4 linked regions of the Homo sapiens genome follow. The protein of the gene in region 4 purifies or fractionates together with the protein of the main gene of each other region. This does not show direct contact. Each region holds a gene or a part of one and is shown on either strand. Other genes may lie near its edges.

Region 1 (3,958 bases), on a different chromosome or scaffold from region 4:
CCTAAGGTCACTCCGCCAACTGGTGGCTAGGCCCGGAAGAAAACCCAGCTCTTCCGACTCCGGAGCTCGTCTCCCCACCCCGGGGCTGCCGCCAGAGCTCCCGCCCCTCACTAAGGCGGCATAAGGAGGAAAAGGCAAAGTAGAAATCCCACAACCAACCATCCTCCGGCCCCCTCCTGCCCCCCCAACTGGGTCCTTGCAGGCCCCGAAGGGTGGCGCCAGGCCTCCAAGCCGGCCCCGGCCACCCCCGCCTCCCCGGCCGCTCCAAATCCCGCGGCCGCTGCCGCCGCCGCCTCCCCCGGAGCGGGGCGGAGCAGCTGCCCGCCGCCGCCGACCACCCGGACGACTCCTCGTCGAATCGCAAACGCATAGGCCGCCGCCCGAGTTCTGCGTACGAGAAGAAAGACGCGGCGCGAGCGCCAACGGCCACCGGGCGCGCGCCGCGGCGGCCGGGCCTGCGCCCCAAGAGCTGGATGCCAGAGCAGGAGAAAGAGCCGCCAACCGATCGCTCGATCGACCGCACGCCCGTTCCTTCGCCCTACCAGACCCGGGAGGGGGGGAGGGCGCGCCAGGGCTTCTTCGATTTAGGGGCCTGACTCCCCGGCGACGAGACAAGATGGCTCCTCCGGTCCGCACCGCAGCTACCGTCCCGGCTGCGTCGCTCGGCCCGCCCCCGGTACTGTTTCTTTAAATGGCGGAGAGGGTCAGGAAAGCAGGAAGAGAGGCGCACGCTGTCACGTGACAGGGGCGGGACCGGCCAACCAAGATCCGGTCACATGGGGACACGCAGCCCGCCAATCAGGAGGCTGTACATCAGGGCGGGGGCGGGAGGAGCTGCAGCTTTGTGATTGGCTGAATGCTCCGCGGAGGCCTCGGGGGCTTGGGGCGTCGGGGAGTGTGCGAGGTGGCCGGGGCTGTGTGCACTATCGGAGACAAAGCGGTGGCTGTGGTGTCTGTGACGGCGGCGGCAGAGCAGCTCTAAACGCCGAATTTCGTGTTGCTGAATCCTGTCACCATCTCAACTAGCGCGGCGCGCGGGCGGCGCGCGGGCGGCGGCGGAGGCAGCGGCGGCGGCGGCGGAGGCGGCAGCAGCACATGGTTCCAAGAGCGCTCTGCGGCTGTTGGGTTCCAATTCCGCGGGGAGGGACAAAGGCAGTTGTGAGATCCGGGTAGTGCCCGGTCAGGTGGTGCGCTCGCCACTGCCCTCGATCCGGTCCTTGGAAGCCGGGAGTAGCTCCTCTTCGTGGGGAGGCGGCCACGGGACCGAGGCCCGGGAAGGGCCTGGGAGGCTGAGGCTGTTGTCTGAGGGACGTGGGGGCGGGGCGCGGCCTGCCCGAGGTGCTGTGGGCGGGTCATTTGTGAGGTGTTTATGTGGGCCAAGTGTGAGGTAATCTGACCACCACCCTGAACTGGGTTTGGTCCGGCTTTGAAAAAAGAAATCGTGAGTGCCTAGGAGCTTTTTCACTTGGGAGGTGGTGAAGCTGCAACTTGCGCCATATAACACTCCGTCGACATCTTGGTCTCCGGTCTTGGGCCTGTTTAAGAATCCTGGCATCACGTGTGGCGAAGACATGGCTGATCAGTTTTCTGACAGAAGTGGGTAAATTTCCGCGTTGGTAAATTTCCTGACAGGAAATTTCGGGGAACCAAAAAAGGCTGGAAGAACATGAAGATGGAGCAGTCATAAACCACCCACTCAAGGACCATCTCCTTCAGGACCATCCACACGAGACTCAGATTGTCTGAATTGAGCTATCGCAACTTAATGCTAAAAGCTCCTTAAAGCTACAGATTTATGACATAGTTCCTTCCAAAATATTACATCATAAATCATTGAGAAGATTAAAAAAAAACACTTGAAGAAATTGTAGTTTTAAACATCTCTGCATATATTTTGGATAGCTACTAGGTTACTTTAACTGTCATTAAGGAGCACAGACTTACTGAAGCTTTACTGGACAGAATCCTGGGAAATCGATATCATTATAAGGTTATATTTCCCAGTTAGCGGGTGAAGGGCTGGAGACCTTATTGCAGTCATGGCTTTCACAAATTACAGCAGTCTGAATCGAGCTCAGCTAACCTTTGAATATCTGCACACAAATTCGTAAGTATCCTCTAGGTGCCACTGAGGTAACCAGTAACTCGTTCCTTGATATTATATGGAAATCGTTTCCCCAGAAAATTTTGCTTTTTCACTTTTTGAGATGTATCCCACTGGAGTGAAATGTGTCACTGGATATCTTGAGCTCTGTATTGAAGAACTGAGATCAGTGAAATACTTGTTGCTAATCCAGAAGAATCTGATTTTTGTTTATTGGATCAAAATTTTCTAAATGCAAACTTTAGTTATTTGAAGTCAATATGTTGAGTTGTTTCATTCAAGTGTTTATAGGAATCCAACAAATACTGCTCTATTGGATCGCCAAATGTTGGACTATTTTAGTATCAACCGTTTCCCCTCTGTAGTGACAACGTCCTAAACAGTTAGGTTTATAACAAGTGTTTACTTTCTAACAAGAAAACAGAAGACATTTAAATGACAACTTTCAAGAAGAAAATTTTTATTTTTTCAGAAGTTGGCATTATCTTCCTGGCAGATTGCTCACATCCAATATTATTTGTATATGCTAAACAGGAAACGGCAACTTGTTTATATCTCTATTTAGATAGTCTTTCCCCAAAATTTCCACAGAAACATACAGTGTTCATGGTTCTTGAGTTCATGAAGGAGTAATCTAATCACTCCAACATGGTCTGGAATGTTTCAGGTTTAATCCATATGCCCACTCTCTTGGAGGCTGTCCAGTAGCGTCAAAACTTTAGTGTTTTAATACATTCACCTGTTACTTTTGAGATGAAGGTAAGTGTTCTAACATTCTAGTACCTGGAGAGGAGATGAGCAGCTACATGAATGGTCCAGTCTCTGAAGAACCCACTTCAGAGTCGAGAGTATAGACTTCCATTATGTAGTAATAGTACAATGGTTTTTAGCTTTTGATGGAGAAGACAACATGTTTGTGATATCATAATGTCTGTAATATTTCTATTTTTCCTTTAAAGGGAATAAAATTTTGCCAAGTAGTGAAGCAAACTGTCAAATGGTGAAAGCCTGTTTTTATTTTTTTTAGGAAGTTTGTTATTTTTTTGAGAGACGGAGTCTTGCTCTGTTGCTCAGGCTAGAGTGGGGTGGCGCAATCTTGGCTCACTGCAACCTTCACCTCCCAGGTTCAAACGATTCTCCTGCCTCAGCTTCCCAAGTAGCTGGGACTACAGGCATGCACCACCACGCCCAGCTAATTTTTGTATTTTTTTAGAGAGACGGGGTTTCACTATATGTTGGCCAGGCTGGTCCCGAACTCCTGACTTCAGGTGATCCACCCACCTTGGCCTCCCAAAGTGCTGGGATTACAGGCATGAGCCACCATGGCCGGCCTGTAGCAGTCACCTAGGTTGAATTCTAACACTTAAGTATGATGACCCTGAAACACACTTGGGTGAGGTTGCTGATTAGTGATTATTCAGCTAGTTGATAGCATAGCCTTGGGAAAAAACTTTAGTGTCCTTTTTAATGTTTGAACTGCCATATTAAGAACAAGCAGTTGAAGGCCACTTAAATGTTCATGGATGACTGTGTTTGATAAATGGTTATCTCAGCTCTGAATTTTGGAATGATGGTAAGTCTGGAATTACAGATTTTATGATAATCTTGGAAGACCATGAACTGGACTTCAGAATTTCAGTTCTTGTTCCAGCTTCACCAAAGACTTTATGGGATAATAATAGTAACAACAGTTAATTGCTTCATATCAGTCACTATTTTAAACATTGTCCAAAGCAATCTTTACAGGAAGCCTTTGGGATAAGGATTATTCCTATTTTGCATTTGAGGAAACTGAGGTTCAAAGAGATTAAATTACATGGTAATGGCTATATAGCTGCCAAGTGGCAGACTTAA
Region 2 (3,525 bases), on a different chromosome or scaffold from region 4:
TTCCCTAGGGAAAAAAGACCCTCTCAGCCCGCTTCAGCTGCAGTATAACTTTTCTACACATGCCCGGATTTCCCCATGCAAGCACGCCCACAAAGGGTAATAGAATGGCACATGTTCAAGCTGGATACGCCATTGGCAGGATCCCCACAGATGGGACTTATGTGCATTATCCATTGTGTATTTTTGCTTATTTTCTGCTCTGTGGTGTTAAGATACTGAAAATGTCAAAAAGACCTGTAGATATTTCTATGAGCAGCAGTGATAAGGAAAAGTAGAAACACTTATAACACAGAAAGTCAAGCTGTAGGAGAAACTGGACTGTAGTATAAAGGTATAGATGACATGGTGAAAATGTGTGATAGAGATATTGAAGGACTAGAGCTACCTGCATTCATAACAGAACAAGAGGTCATGTCAGTTTATAAAATCAAAGAGAGCCTTCCAAGACAAAAGCCATTGTTAATGAAGCAGATGACTCTGGAGAAACATTTAAAAGTCATCTGGCCGAATGCCTCTTCAATCTCAGAGGACCCGCTTCCTAGTTGCTCAGCTGCTTCTGATGTTTCTTCTCACCTGAAAAAGGAAAAAAAAATACAGTGTATAGTAACCTTTTAATCAAAACGCAGCATTGTAGGTGGAGTCTGAAAGCCTGCCATTGTTTGTACAGCTGTTTAACAGCTGATGCAGGTATTCTGGTGATTCTACTATGCTACTTATTACTTTCTTACTGTATTAATGGTATGTCATATTTTATAAGCATATGAAAATGATTGCTCATCAGCAGCATAATAAATTCAGAGTCAGGAATGATGGTCAATGATGTCAAACAGCCACAGATTTTCCACATGGTAGCTGAGATAGTGACCCCTTTGCTTTCTGATGGTTCCATGTATGCAAACTTTGTTTCATGCACAAAATTATTTGAAATATTATATAAAATTACCTTTAGGTTTTGTGTATAAGATATATGAAACATAAATGAAGTTCATGTTTAGACTTGGGTCTCATGCCCAAGATATCTCACATATATGCAAATATTCCAAAGTCCAAAACACAAAACACTTCTGGTTCCAAACATTTCAGATAAGGGATACTCAATCTGTATATATATAAATATATGTATGTATTACATATATGGTATGTATATAATATACATTTCCATCCCTCCACAGGTTACTGTTCTGGCACATTCCCATTATGTTCTGTTTATCAGACTGCAACTAAAATTTTCATGGGTTCGGCTTTATGTTGAACAGAATTTGCAGAATATGAGTTGAAGCGAACCATAGTTTAATAATGCTGTGATTCTCCTAAATCACCAAAGTGCATGAAAGGATTATAGAGCTCAGAAATACTGAAGCATCTTTGCAATAAAAAATTATTAGTGAATGTACAAGGAGTCTAACATTTTGGTTTTGCTTTCGCTTCCTAAGATGCAACAGCATTTTGAATTTGAATACCAGACCAAAGTGGATGGTGAGATAATCCTTCATCTTTATGACAAAGGAGGAATTGAGCAAACAATTTGTATGTTGGATGGTGTGTTTGCATTTGTTTTACTGGATACTGCCAATAAGAAAGTGTTCCTGGGTAGAGATACATATGGAGTCAGACCTTTGTTTAAAGCAATGACAGAAGATGGATTTTTGGCTGTATGTTCAGAAGCTAAAGGTAATAATAAATTTTTCTATAGATTTTCATTATTGTCTTGGTTGTACGTTTTCTTTTAAATTATATTTGAAAATCTCTTAGAGAGCAATCCAGAATTTTACAAGTGACTAAGTTATGAGTCTTTACCTTTTTTTAAAAAAACAGAGGAGTTGTACTCTCCTTTTCAGCACTTAAATTCTGTAATCCTTGAAGGATGATTCTTTAGTGCAGTCGTTTATTTTTTGCTGTGCTAATATGCTCTACATCTAGCTTGATCTTAAGTGCAGTTTTAAGTTTTCCTGTGTCATACTATAATCGTAGGGTTGACTCTGCAATTATTGCATTGTGGTACTTTGCGCAGTTATAGCACAGCAAGTGTTAGGATTTCTAAAACAGCTTTATTGATAATTCACATACCATGTAATTCACCCACTTGAAGTATACAGTTCAGTGGTTTTTAGTATATTCACAGATGTTGGTAAACAACACTCCAATCAGTTTTAGGATTGTTTTTCCACCTCAAAAAAAACCAAATCAAATCCTATGCCCTTTACCTTAGTTTTTGCTGGCAGGATCAACTAGGTTTTTGTTTGTTTGTTTGTTTGAAGAGATGGGGTCTTGCTCAGTCGCCCAGCCCAGGCTGGAGTGCGGTGGTTTGATAGCTCAGTGCAGCCTTGAACTCGTGGGCTCAAGCGATTCTCCCACCTCAGCCTCCCTAGTAGCTAGGAGTATAGGCATGCACCACAACACCCTGCCTCCTGTGCCCTTTAGCTTTGAATTCCATCTCTCCATATCCATCAGCTGCACCCCTGCAGTTGTAGCCCCGGCAATCACCAGTCTTTCTGCCTCTGGATTCCCTATTCTGTATGTTTCATATGAACGGGATTATATATCATACCGGCTTTTGTGACTGGATTCTTTCACTTGGTATAGTGCTTTCAAGATTTGTCTATGCCGTAGCATGTATCAGTACTTACTTCTTATGGCCAAATGATATTCCATTACATGGATACACTGCATTTTGTTTATTCGCTTGTCAGTTGATGGACATTTAGGACATTATTTACCCCTTTTGGCTATTATGAATAATGCTGCTATAAACATTGGTGTACAAGTTTTTGTGTGGACATTTCCCTTGGGTGTATATCTAGGAGTAGAATTGCTGGGACACATGATAACTATGTTCAGTTGAAGAACTGCCAGACTAATTTTTGAAATGGCTGCATCATTTTTTATTCACTCCAGCAGTGTATTAAAATTTCTGTTTCTCCACATCTTCACAAACAGTGTGTGACTTTAATTCTAGCCATTCTAGTGTATGTGAAGTGGTATCTCATTGTGATTTTGATTTGTATTTTCCTGTTGACAGTGATGTCCAGCATCTTATCTTATGCTTATTGGCCATTTGTATATCTTCTTTGGAGAAATATTTGTTCAGATCCTTTGCCATTTTTTTTTCCTGTTAGGGATCATTTTATTTTAAAAACATAATAGACTTTATTTTTTTTTTTGAGCAGTTTTAGAAAAAATTGAGAGGAAAGTGCAGAGAGTTCACATATGCTCCCCCTACAGTGCCCCTGCCCAGTTTTCCCCACTCTTAACATCTTGCATTACTGTGCTACATTTATTAGATTTGATGAACTGATACTTATATATTAACTGAAGTTCATAGTTTACATAAGGGTTCACTCTTTGTGTTTTATAGATTTTTGGATTTGACAAATGTTTAATGCCATGTACCCACCATTACAGTATTATGTAGAACAGTTTCATTGCCCTAAAAATCTCCTGTGCTCCACTTATTCTTTCCTCCCGTCCTCTTCCTCCTAACCCCCCAGTCATTACTGATCTTTTTGCTTTCTCTCTCACTTTGCC
Region 3 (3,525 bases), on a different chromosome or scaffold from region 4:
GGTTCCAGAGCGTCCATGACCACTGTGCACACACAGCAGGTTTCATGAGAAGCTGGAGCACTGGCTCATGGTTGTTAGGAGGCACCAGCTGACCTGTTTCCTGTATAGGCTCAACCTCCTCAGAAGTGGACACCCATTACTTCTCGCTGTTTCTGTGTGATCTCCATTTCACATTTCTAAAGGGTGGATCTTTTGGGGTCACTCGCTATTTTCTAATACAGAATGCTCCCGTCAAGCTCCCTTATTGATAACTGATATCTCTTATGTCCTGCCAGCAGTGCACGATTGGCTTTGAGACTGCCTGATCCACTCACTCGTAACCAGCCAAGTACTATGACCCAAACTATAGCAGAATTTGGCACAAACAGGTCCCTGGTAGCTACTTTCCTCAGGAAGGCCTATGGATTTGGAAAACACAGGTGTCTCATAAGGACATACTCATAAATTGTTTTCATGTACAATAATTCTTGTGTGTACTTTCCTCCTGTTGTCATCAAAGTGGTCACATATTAAAACTTTTCTGCTAAATATGAATCCTCATGTTTAATGGCAGAGAACCCACCATTCCCAGCACACTTACTTCTGTCTCTGGACTAATCTTGAGTAATTGGTTTTCCTTTGCTTAGGTCTTATTGAAGTTAAAACAGATGAGTTTCCTCGCCATGGGAGCAACATAGAAGCCATGTCCAAGCTAAAGCCTTACTTTCTTACTGATGGAACGGGAACAGTCACCCCAGCCAATGCTTCAGGTTAGATTTTCTGAAGGACATCTGGGGGAATACTATGTTCTATAATGTCTACCGAGTGAATATTTTTCTCTTTATTTATATACAAAAGTACTATTTTTTGGGACAGGGACTCACTCTGCCAGCCAGGTTCGTGTGCAGCAATATGATCATTGCTCACTTGCAGCCTCAAACTCCTGGGCTCAAGTGAGCCCCCTGCCTTAACCTCCCAAGTAGCTGGGGGACTACAGGCATGAGCCACCACACCCAACTCAATATTTATGTACAAAATTATTCTTAAAACAGTTTAAGGAAACATGTCATTTCTCTGTATTTGATCATTGACTTAACCTATACTGAAAGAATTAATTTGGTTTCTTGACATCCCAACTAGACATACAAATGAAGAAGTAAATTAGGGAACTTCAGTTTATCTACCTTTGTATTTTTCCAGTACCAGAAACTCCCAATACCTCCTTGTGAAGCCCAGGCTTATTCTTCCATTTCCTGTCAGAGATCTCCCCTCCCCAACTGCTGTAATCCTTTTTTTTTCTTTTTGAGACGGAGCCTCACTCTGTCGCCCAGGCTGGAGTGCAGTGGTGCAATCTTGGCTCACTGCAATCTCCGCCTCCCAGGTTCAAGCAATTCTCCTGTCTCAGCCTCCTGAGTGGCTGGGACTACAGGCGCACACCACCACACCGGCTGATTTTTCTATTTTAAGTAGAGATGGCTTTCACCCTATTGGTCAGGCTGGTCTCAAACTCCTGACCTCAGGTGATTCACCCTCCTCCACCTCCCAAAGTGCTGGGATTACAGGCGTGAGCCACCACGCCCAGCCCCGACTACTGTAATCCTACCACTTTCTCTAGTTGGAAAGTTTTGTGGTCAATATATTGCCAAACATAATTTCTATGTAAAGTCTGTTGAATTATAGTAAATGCCTTAGCCAACAGGTAAAATCATTTAACTCATGTCTTCAGGTGGTAAAGAAGCCACAGATATGTAACTGAGGTTAATAAGCATGGTAGAAATTAAGTCACTCATATTTTACAGGAATAAATGATGGTGCTGCAGCTGTCGTTCTTATGAAGAAGTCAGAAGCTGATAAACGTGGGCTTACACCTTTAGCACGGATAGTTTCCTGGTCCCAAGTGGGTGTGGAGCCTTCCATTATGGGAATAGGACCAATTCCAGCCATAAAGCAAGCTGTGAGTATAACCCTATTCCCTTTTATGAAATTTGTCTTCCTGTTAGCCTTAAGTGAGCTTATTCATGTAGTTAGCTCTAGTCTTTCCCTACCAGAAGAGTAACCAAGAGCATTTATTTCTATTTTTGAGATAAGGTCTTGCTCTGTTGTCCAGGCTGGAGTGCAGTGGCACCATCATAGCTCACTGCAGCCTCAAAACTCCTAGGCTCAAATATTCCTCCTGCCTTAGCCTCCCATTACCTCGAACTACAGGTGCACCACGCCTTCTTCATTTCGTAGAGACAAGGTCTATGTCGCCCAGGCTGGTTTTGAACTCCTGAGTTCAATTGATCCTCTTGCCTTAGGCTCCCCAAGTGTTGAGATTTCAGGTGTGAGCCACTACCCCCAGCCACTGAGAGCATTTGGATCACATGCTTTCTAGGGGAACTGATTCTGTTACATTAGCCTTAGGTACACATAACAGATGCTACTGGTTCAAAATTTTAAGACAATTTAGAATTTCTAAGGGATCTTTTAGATCACACCCTTAACCTTTTGGATGGAATGGATGTCACTAAGGCAAAAATGTGTGAGAATGTCACTGTATTAACCTAAGAACAAACCAAAGTAGCAGTTACCAGTATCATGCAGCATATATTTATGTTGACAAAGAATGGTTTAACTTTAGCCTTTCCACCCAAGTTTAGACCTCTTTTCTATGAATCTTTCCTCTAGGTTACAAAAGCAGGTTGGTCACTGGAAGATGTTGACATATTTGAAATCAATGAAGCCTTTGCAGCTGTCTCTGCTGCAATAGTTAAAGAACTTGGATTAAACCCAGAGAAGGTAAAGATGCACAAGTAACCCTGAGAGCTTACCAGTGAATTTCACAATCCAATTTTAAGATAGTATCTTCTAGGTGTTGGCCATGTGGGTAATAGTTAAAGAAATACTAGTTACTAGGACTGAGTTCATTACTTCCCAAGGTTTAAAAAAAAAAAAAAAAAAAAAAAAAGACATTGGCTTACTTGGCATAAAAGGAACGAGGTAAGATAGGCAGGGATGAATTTTCACAAAGGTGTAAATTTATTCCTAAGCAGTTAAAATGAAAATTTGAGTTTGAAAGGGTAGCATGCTGATACATTAAGAGGAAAAAGACAAGTTTAAGATTTTAAACTGTGTCCACAGAAGAATAAACAATCTAAATCTTTTCTCCCCCGTTAGGTCAATATTGAAGGAGGGGCTATAGCCTTGGGCCACCCTCTTGGAGCATCTGGCTGTCGAATTCTTGTGACCCTGTTACACACACTGGAGAGAATGGGCAGAAGTCGTGGTGTTGCAGCCCTGTGCATTGGGGGTGGGATGGGAATAGCAATGTGTGTTCAGAGAGAATGAATTGCTTAAACTTTGAACAACCTCAATTTCTTTTTAAACTAATAAAGTACTAGGTTGCAATATGTGAAATCAGAGGACCAAAGTACAGATGGAAACCATTTCCTACATCACAAAAACCCAAGTTTACAGCTTGTACTTTACTTTAATGTGTAATACTCAACTCAAGGTACAAGACAATTGCATTTAACATTGTTATAAATAAAAGGAACATCAGATCAA
Region 4 (2,818 bases):
CTGACATTTTCACCTAGGATACCATTAAATATTTTACGTTGTTTTAACCTCCAAAACTAATATTTCAAAATTTGAAGTCCAAGTAAAATGAAGCATTTAGGAATTGCTCTCTGCTCCTTTATTCAACAAATGTTTACTTGCAGATTATCAAGTAGGTTTTAGATTTGAGAGCAAAATTGTGTATATGTGTGTGTATGTATGTATGTATGTATGTATGTATGTATGTATGTATGTATATGTATTTCTAACACCAGTGCAGCATAACTAATTTAATGCCAGTGCTGTGAACTATATACTGAATAGCTCTGTGTGGGCTTTGTAGTCTACAGGGATATCACATTATTAGCAATCATATCTGCTTAGGCAAAGCTGGCTTCTACAGATGGCTGCTTTCAAGTGCAAATGAACTGGTTAGACGTGTCTTGTTTAATACATACTCAAGATTCACAAATGGGTATTGATTTTTTTTTTCAACCAGTGTTTCTGATAGCAGTGGAAATGGATTAAATGGTCTCTAGAGAATTTAAAGGAACACTGTCACTTTTAATTAATAGTAAACTTGAGTGGTAACAAAGTATATAAAGTTACATTAATATGTCATGTCAATATGTACTTGATTTATATTGTCTATATAGTTTTATAACAGTGGGCTATAGATTCTAGAAATAAGTAGCTTATGGCCTTCAATACATTGCATGTCTTTATAAAAACATGTGAAAATATGTATTTTTATATATATACACACACACATATGTGTCATATATATGAAATATATATAAATATAAATATATATGTATACACACACACACATATGCCTTTAATTGTAGGGTACGTTACGTTGGCTTTCTAGAAATAAGCTTTATATATTCTTCATATATTTATATTCTGTTAAAATCAGGACAGTTTTATATGTGGTCTAGATAATTGAAAATATGCTTACTAGGGCTCTGCAATCTGGTTTGTTGATTTTACCCTCAGATGTATGATCTTTATTAGTGTTTTTGTTACAGATTAGTATAATTTCACTTGGCTTTGAACATTCTTATCAATATCTTCAAAGAGAAGCACTAATCCTGTTGGGCAAAGGTTTCTTCTCAATACATTCTAACAGAAGGGAAAAACTTTTGAGAATTTCCCCCAAAAGATCCTCAAGTCCTTATTGTTGAGGAGTCGATGGTGGGGTCATGTGGGACCATGTCAGCTGTGTGCAGTGTTAAGTGTGGGTGCTGCAGAGCCTGTTTTACTTATGGTAAAGTAAAGTTCATGCCATGGACTAAACCTGGTTTTCTGGAACTGCTGCTTGCTTCTATTAAAATTACCAGCAGATTGCATGTCTGGATCTGCATACCAGCAGGTGGAATCAGTTGCTTTGCTGACTAATTTACAAGTGGAAGAAATATCTGTCTTTGCAACTGCAACCTGTTAGAGTCTCCTTGTAACTAGGGCCATTAGTCAGGAAACCGTATGATGAATTCTAGTACATACTTCTATGTATACACATTGTCAAGACTAAATTTTAAAAACTACAAGGAAGTAGTTCAGAATCTTACACAACAACTGATCATAATTTTCCTTATACCAACTATATTTTTGGCATCACCAGTGTCACCAAAGGATTTCTTTAAGCAAATAAAGCAGCTTTTAACTAGTTATATAGTCTTTTTCTTTCTGCCTGGTTTGATCTGTTTTGTTACAGTGACTTGCTGGATGTTTGCAGACACATCAGAAATGTACCATAAACAGCGTGTAATGAAACTTAATGATATTGGTATAATTACATTTATGTACCAACAATTTAGTGGAGAATACATTATGATTATGTATATATGGAAAATCTAGTTCTGCCCAAATCAAGAATACTTTGCTTCTCTCCAAGTCTAGTTTTGAACTTGTATGCCTTCCTATATTTCATTTTTTCTTTTTTTATATCACCCAAGTAGTATAATACTTTTTATATCTGCTGCCACCATTTACCCCATGTATTTAGTTGTAAACTAATAACCCATTTCCTCTATATTTTCTGTTTGCAGGCTGCTGGAAAGTACAGACAACAAGGCAGAAATTATATTGTTGAAGATGGAGATATTATCTTCTTCAAATTTAACACACCTCAACAACCGAAGAAGAAATAAAATTTAGTTATTGCTCAGATAAACATACAACTTCCAAAAGGCATCTGATTTTTAAAAAATTAAAATTTCTGAAAACCAATGCGACAAATAAAGTTGGGGAGATGGGAATCTTTGACAAACAAATTATTTTTATTTGTTTTAAAATTAAAATACTGTGTACCCCCCCCCCCCCATGAAATGCAGGTTCACTAAATGTGAACAGCTTTGCTTTTCACGTGATTAAGACCCTACTCCAAATTGTAGAAGCTTTTCAGGAACCATATTACTCTCATGATACTTCATTAATCTCCATCATGTATGCCAAGCCTGACACATTTGACAGTGAGGACAATGTGGCTTGCTCCTTTTTGAATCTACAGATAATGCATGTTTTACAGTACTCCAGATGTCTACACTCAATAAAACATTTGACAAAACCAGCCTTGGTGTGTTTGGGGATGTCTGTATTGACTGACTGTGGTGTGCTGAATGCGATACGGCACCTGGTGGTTGCTGATTACAGAATTTTAAGGCGTGTGTATGACACAGTAACTGGCAGTGTGGGGCAGCTGCAATTGTATCTTAAAAGTGAGTCTTTCATGGGAATCAGAAGAATAGTATACCAGGGATTTGTCTCAAAAAAGTTAATTAATTTATAGATCAACATTTATTGAAAGATGATAGCAATGATATTATGAGGGATATGA

What was found. Proteins that work in one complex are often made in the same cells at the same time.
Region 1: the proteins of OLA1 (region 4) and MORC2 fractionate together in Homo sapiens (co-fractionation; one large-scale study listed by BioGRID). This does not show direct contact.
Region 2: the proteins of OLA1 (region 4) and ASNS fractionate together in Homo sapiens (co-fractionation; one large-scale study listed by BioGRID). This does not show direct contact.
Region 3: the proteins of OLA1 (region 4) and ACAT2 fractionate together in Homo sapiens (co-fractionation; one large-scale study listed by BioGRID). This does not show direct contact.

Annotation. Positions count from the first base shown.
Region 1 is NC_000022.11:30,965,971-30,969,928, reverse strand, and holds the start of MORC2 (ATPase MORC2), read left to right. Parts: upstream 1-1,154; 5' UTR 1,155-2,039; coding exon 2,040-2,107; exon of another isoform or gene 2,108-2,863; intron 2,864-3,958. Other genes in the region: TUG1 (taurine up-regulated 1), read right to left, coding at 111-572. UniProt on the Homo sapiens protein: Essential for epigenetic silencing by the HUSH (human silencing hub) complex. Recruited by HUSH to target site in heterochromatin, the ATPase activity and homodimerization are critical for HUSH-mediated silencing.
Region 2 is NC_000007.14:97,862,405-97,865,929, reverse strand, and holds part of ASNS (asparagine synthetase [glutamine-hydrolyzing]), read left to right. Parts: intron 1-1,433; coding exon 1,434-1,671; intron 1,672-3,525.
Region 3 is NC_000006.12:159,775,524-159,779,048, forward strand, and holds part of ACAT2 (acetyl-CoA acetyltransferase, cytosolic), read left to right. Parts: intron 1-626; coding exon 627-749; intron 750-1,778; coding exon 1,779-1,933; intron 1,934-2,646; coding exon 2,647-2,757; intron 2,758-2,974; exon of another isoform or gene 2,975-3,135; coding exon 3,136-3,306; 3' UTR 3,307-3,521; coding exon of another isoform or gene 3,522-3,525. Other genes in the region: TCP1 (T-complex protein 1 subunit alpha), read right to left, coding at 3,522-3,525. UniProt on the Homo sapiens protein: Involved in the biosynthetic pathway of cholesterol.
Region 4 is NC_000002.12:174,074,740-174,077,557, reverse strand, and holds part of OLA1 (obg-like ATPase 1), read left to right. Parts: intron 1-2,030; coding exon 2,031-2,132; 3' UTR 2,133-2,818. UniProt on the Homo sapiens protein: Hydrolyzes ATP, and can also hydrolyze GTP with lower efficiency. Has lower affinity for GTP.